2 separate regions of the Homo sapiens genome follow, and region 2 is linked to region 1. The links come from fine-mapping of genetic effects on gene expression. A gene starts in region 1. The other region holds a variant in brackets. All regions are shown on one strand. Distances are from middle to middle. Region 1 holds the start of DGAT1 (diacylglycerol O-acyltransferase 1). Region 2 overlaps HSF1 (heat shock transcription factor 1).

Region 1 (2,900 bases):
AAAAAAAGAAATCTCAATTCCCACGTCCTCCACAGGTCATGTAGCCATCCCCCTGCCTCCTGGAGAGAGGGTAACTCCAGGAGCCACACCTCCTTTTCAGGTAGGAGGTGCCTAGGCCAGCCTCCCTCACCAGCACCCCAGGCCCACAGCAGGCAAGCACCCCTCTCAGGAGGGCCACCCTCCTCCCCACGGCCCCTTCAAGGCCTCCGTGCCCGACCTTTGTCCATGTTGCTCCATGCCTGACTCTCGCTGAGGTTATCTTATCTCCCAGATGAACTGAGCACCCTGAGGGCCACGACAGTGCCTGCCCTCCCCCAACCCCCTCCCCATGGTGCCCCGTGAAGGAAAGCTCTGTTCTTGCTCACTGAGAGAGCAAATCATTGCCAACTACATGTCCAAAATCAGCCCACTTCTGCCTTGATAACCTCTAGGCCCTCAGCTGCTCTCTAAAACAAAGCCCTGAGGGCCCCTGGGCCAGGGTAAAGGCCATAAAGGGGGGATGGAGGGTGGCAAGGGGATTGCTCAAGGCCAGCTTGGTGGAGGAAGCCAATGCCCAGGCTGGCCAAGTCCTTCCCATCGGCCATGGTTCTCTCCCTCCACCCCTCTCTGTCAGTCATCCAGCTGAGCAGGGCACACGCCTGCAGGTGTGTCCACCACCCCCATACCCCACTCCCCACCTGGAGGATGGAAGTCCCAACACAGAACCCAACTCTCTGTCCCTACAACAGACGCTGGCTCTGGCAACATCGGCAGGGCTCCAGGCCAGCCTAACCACTGGAGCAATGAATGGGCCACGCAGCCACTCTCAGAAGGGTCTGCAAGGACAAGAACGCCTCTAACACTGCCCCTTGTCCGGGGCAGCTGCTGATTCCCCTGTCCTCGGACAGGCCTGGGCTCCTCTGGCCCCCTCCCTGGCAGGCCAGCCCTCCTCTGGGAGCCTTTCCTACCCGCAAGGCACCGCTCATAGCACCAAGAAGGAACCTATCACCACAAACTGCCCAGATCTTATCTGACTCCTTCCATATAAGGGGACACTGTCCAGGGCCGGGCCCCCACCAGCCCGCCCCTCGAAAAGCTCCTCAGGAGCCCCTGAGGATGCACAGACCCAAGAGGATCTGGATGCGGGACACCTGCCGGCTCCCCTCTGCCTGGCCAAGGCCAGCTCCAGAGCCCCTACCCAGTGACCTTGTCAGGTGACTCTCCCCAAGCCTCAGTTTCCCCACAGGGCCCATAGGGCACACCGATCCCCGCTTAGCCCAGGGCCCATGTTCTCGGACTCGGAGCTCGCGCTTCGGCCAACCCCGGAAAGTCGCGGGGCCCTTGGGTCAGAGGTTAGGGGGTCAGGCGCTCCGCTACCTCAGCTCCCAGTGGCCGCTGCCCACGCCGGCGTCTCCGTCCTTGTTGGGGGCCGGGGCTGGCGCGTCCCCCGCGGCTCCCACGTCGGGGCCCGCAGCGGCGTCCCGCACCTCCTCTTCCGCCGCCGCAGGCCCGCCGCCGCCGTGGCTCGAGGGCCGCGACCCTGTCCTCCGGCGCCGGGAGCTGCCGCGGTCGCCCATGGCCTCAGCCCGCACCCGGCCGCAGCCAAGCGTGGGCCCGCCGGGTTCGTAGCGCCCGAGGCGCGCGGCCCCACCTCCGGGCCCTAGACAACGGCCGCCACTGCCCCCTGCCGGCCGCCGTAGCCCGGGTGACCGCCTCACCAGCGCGTTCAACCCGCCCGCGTCGGGCCCGTCGGCCTCAAGGACAACGGCTGCGTTGCTCCGGAGCCGCTAACTAATGGACGGCCGCCTCTCTCGTCCATTTGTAGTCCGCGGCCGACCTGAGGCGGGGCCTGGAGAGGCTGACGGGGCGCAGGGCACCCTGGGAGTCGTAGTCGCCGCGGGCGCGCCGGCGCAGAGCACCCTGGGAGTCGTAGTCGCCGCGGCCGCACCGGCGCAGAGCACCCTGGGAGCCGTGGCAGCTCCCAGGGCCGGGGCTGCGGGCCGCAAGTGCGCGCAGCGGGAACGGACCTTGCATCGCTCCCGCGTGGTCCCGGGGTCCTGTCCGGCCCCACGGAGCGGGATGGTCCGCTGAGGGGTGCGCTGGGCCCCGACTTCCTGGCCGCTGTGCGCCCGCCCCTCGTCCCACTTGTGTACACACGGGGTCTCGGCGAGTCACTCCGGGCAATCATTTAGGAAGCGCCTAGTGCGCCACGGTCCAGCTGTCCGGGCCGGTGTCCGCGGCGGCTCGCGTCGCCCGCCACCCAGCGCGTTGGTTTCTGCGCACGCAGCTTACAGTAACGTCCCTGGCGCGCTTCTGCTCCGCGAGCCCTCTGGTTACCCCGGCAGGAACCTGCTTTTCTTCGCCTTAGGGGGACGTCAGACAAGGGCCAGGTCAGAAGACCAAGCTGGAGAAATGCACCAGGCCCTGCGTCACCGGGACGCCTGCCTTGCACGCGACTCCCAGGCTCTCCACCTCCCCGCCTGCAGAGCCCGGCGAGAGGAGGGCGAGGGCGAGGGCGAGGGCGCAGGCCCCTTGGTGGTGTCTTCTCAGCCCACCCACTCTCTCCACAAGGAGCTCCACGTCCCTCAACTCTCAGGGCCTCCCAGTTTCCAACGTGGGCCAGCCTCTCCAGGATGTCAGAAGTCTGGGCCGCTGGATCGCCGGGACTCAAGAGGCTTCTGTGCATTTGCACGGCCTGTGCAACCGCCCTGTTGTTTTTTGTTTTCTTTTTTCTTTTTTTGAGACAGTCTCACTCTGTCGCCAGGCTGGAGTGCAGTAGCGCGATCTCGTCTCACTGCAACCTCCACCTCCTGGGTTCAAGCGATTCTCCTGCCTCAGCCTCCCGAGTAGCCAGGACTACAGGCGCGTGCCACCACGCCCAGCTAATTTTTCTGTTTTTAGTAGAGACGGGCTTTCACCAT
Region 2 (2,900 bases), 27 kb before region 1:
GCTCCTAAAGCCTATACTCCCGGGACCCGGAGAGGGAACAGCCGGCCAGCCGAGCCCAGGAGCCCAGATCACCGGTCAGCAGATACAGCTTTGACTTGGCAGGAGGCTGGAACAAGAGGCTTGTGGCCTGGGCTGTGGGGCCACCTTGTAGAATACGGCACTGTTCACGTTTTGGGCCAGGGAGCCCTTTGAGAAGATACTCAGAGACACAGACACTTTCTATGTAAGGTGTCCCTACAGGCAGGATCTCACACACATTTCAGGTCCTTCACAGTGCTGCAGAAAATGAGGCCACAGGCTCCAAGTTTACTGCAAGCTGCGGGGTTTGCTGACACCTACACTTCTCAGCGTGTGGCATCTCGCACCAGCCAGGGGCCTCCCATTTCCAGTGGCAGGTTTTCGTGATATCCAGTTATGACCGGTGACTCCTCCAAGAGGTGCCTGTGGTCAGCAGAGGAGGGACCTTGTTCCACTGAGGCAGGAAGATGAGAGAGACACTGGGTTCTCTGATGGGTTCACCAGCAGACCCTGTGAAATTCATAATGGCCCCTAAGGTAGGGGTTGCCTGACATGTTCAACTTGGATTTAACCCTTAAGGCATAAGAAGCCGCTGAAAATGTTCAGACGTTACAAAACTAGGGCCGGGCACGGTGGCTCACGGCTGTAATCCCAGCACTTCGGGAGGCTGAGGCGGTTGGATCACCTGAGGTCAGCAGTTCAAGACCAGCCTGACCAACATGGTGAAACCCCGTCTCTACTAAAAATACAAAAAAAAAAAAAATAGCCAGGCGTGGTGGTGCGTGCCTGTAATCCCAGCTACTCGGGAGGCTGAGGCAGGAGAATCACTTGAACCTGGGATACAGAGGTTGCAGTGAGCCGAGATTGCGCCGCTGCGCTCCAGCCACAGAGCGAGAAACTGTCTCAAAAAAAAAAAAAGAAAGAAAAGAAAAAACCGGCGAGGACTGAGGTAAACCACAAAATTGTCCAGGCTTTTTATGTGGAGGGAATTTGCAGACTCACGTGCAGAGAACCCAACAAACCCAGACTTTGGGGCAGCTGAGGCAGCTAGAATGTGTGGGGTGTGGTACCAGAAAGGAAGGAGTTACGCCCAAAACAAAGAGCTCCAGCAATCTGCGCGTGAGCCCGCTTGCATCTTGGGTTGGATCCGATTTGCTGGTGCACACAGTGAAACCTCGTGGAGCTGGACCAAGAGCAACTTGAAGGGGAAGAGTAAGTGTAAGGGGACAGATGAGCAGGACTCACACAGGGCCGTGGTTATTTCAGTTCCCACCAGCCAGAGTATAGAAGCCACTTTAAATACAAGGAGCTTTCATGACACCTTAGAGGAAACACAGCTTGGAAGTGGCGCAGAATAAGCTGCAGAGGAAAGGCCACTCCAATGCCGTGGAAACAAGTGCAAGGCAAGCCCTGGAAACACCACTGCCTGCTAGCACGGAGTACACACAGCACTCTTGAGAGAAGGAAGCCAGGCGAAGTGGCTCACACCTGTAATCCCAGCACTTTGGGAGGCCGAAGCAGGC[G/A]GATTATCTGAGGTCAGGAGTTCAAGACCAGCCTGGCCAATATGGTGAAACGCCGTCTCTACTACAAAAAATTAGCCATGTGTGGTGATGGGCGCCTGTGGTCCCAGCTACTTGGGAGGCTGAGGCAAGAGAACCACATGAGCCCGGGAGGCAGAGGTTGCAGTGAGCCGAGATCGCATCACTGCACTTCAGCCTGGGCAACAGAGCAAGACTCCTTCTAAAAAAAAAAAAAAAAATTCACGTCCAGAATCTAATCAGTCATGGGCAGACAAGCCAAAGCAGAAAAATGGACTTGTCACTGGAGGGGGTCCAGTAGCAGGCCCAGTTTTGATAGGATTAGCCAACAAAGACAGTAAACAATTATAAAAATGTTCCCTGTGCTCAAAGAAATAACACAAAAATGTGACTGAGGGCTGGGCGTGGTGGCTCACACCTGTAATCCCAGCACTCTGGGAGGCCGAGGCGGGTGGATCACGAGGTCAGGAGATCAAGACCATCCTGGCTAACATGGTGAAACCCCGTCTCTACTAAAAATACAAAAAATTAGCCGGGCGTGGTGGCGGGCACCTGTAGTCCCAGCTCCTCCAGAGGCTGAGGCAGGAGAATTGCTTGGACCCGGGAGGTGGAGCTTGCAGTGAGCCAAGATCGTGCCACTGCACTCCAGCCTGGGTGACAGAGCGAGACCCCGTCTCAAAAAATAAGAAAACATGACTGAGAAATGGAAGATACAGAAAAGAAGCAAGTTGGACAAAATGTCACTGGAACTAATCTCCCAAGTAGAAGAATTCCACATTGTTTACTGAGATAGTTCCCCTTCGAGGAGGTGATGCTTAACTCCTCACTCCAGAAGCCTGGGCTTTACCTAGTGACCCTCTTCCAAAGAGCAGAGCACAGAAGCAGGAGGAGCAGCTTTCCAGTGGAGACCTCCAGCAACACAGCCTCACCAGGGACCATGCTCACCATCAGCAGTGACATGCGTATCACTGTTGTGTACTCTTTTTTTTTTTTTTTTTTTTTTTGAGACGGAGTCTCGCTCTGTTGCCAGGCTGGAGTGCAGTGGCACAATCTCGGCTCACTGCAACCTCCACCTCCCAGGTCCAAGCAATTCTCCTGCCTCAGCCTCCCACGAAGCTGGGACTACAGGCACCCGCCACCTCGCCCGGCTAATTTTGTTGTATTTTTAGTAGAGATGGGGTTTCACCGTGTTAGCCAGGATGGTCTCAATCTCCTGACCTCGTGATCCGCCCACCTTGGCCTCCCAAAGTGTTGGGCGCGTCAGCCACCGCGCCCGGCCTGTTGTGTACTCTTGATAGGATGATGAGAACAGCACTCTACCTCTTTGATCTTCCTCCCAAAAAC

The links. PIP is the estimated chance that this variant, and not a neighbour inherited with it, causes the effect. A credible set is the group of variants that fine-mapping cannot tell apart.
Region 2: its variant is the best candidate, but not a certain one, in a credible set for the expression of DGAT1 in whole blood (TOPMed, PIP 0.57).

The regions. Positions count from the first base shown.
Region 1 is chr8:144,325,081-144,327,980 of GRCh38, forward strand. DGAT1 (diacylglycerol O-acyltransferase 1) reads right to left here and starts at 1,772. Exons shown (of 17, transcript NM_012079.6): 1 at 1,357-1,772. The coding sequence starts at 1,556. RefSeq lists silencers at 1,399-1,468, 1,479-2,198.
Region 2 is chr8:144,297,676-144,300,575 of GRCh38, forward strand. The region is part of intron 1 of HSF1 (heat shock transcription factor 1); the gene reads left to right. Among named protein-coding and RNA genes, the nearest start is that of HSF1, 7.5 kb to the left of the region's middle. The variant G/A (reference allele first, on the strand shown) is at 1,542.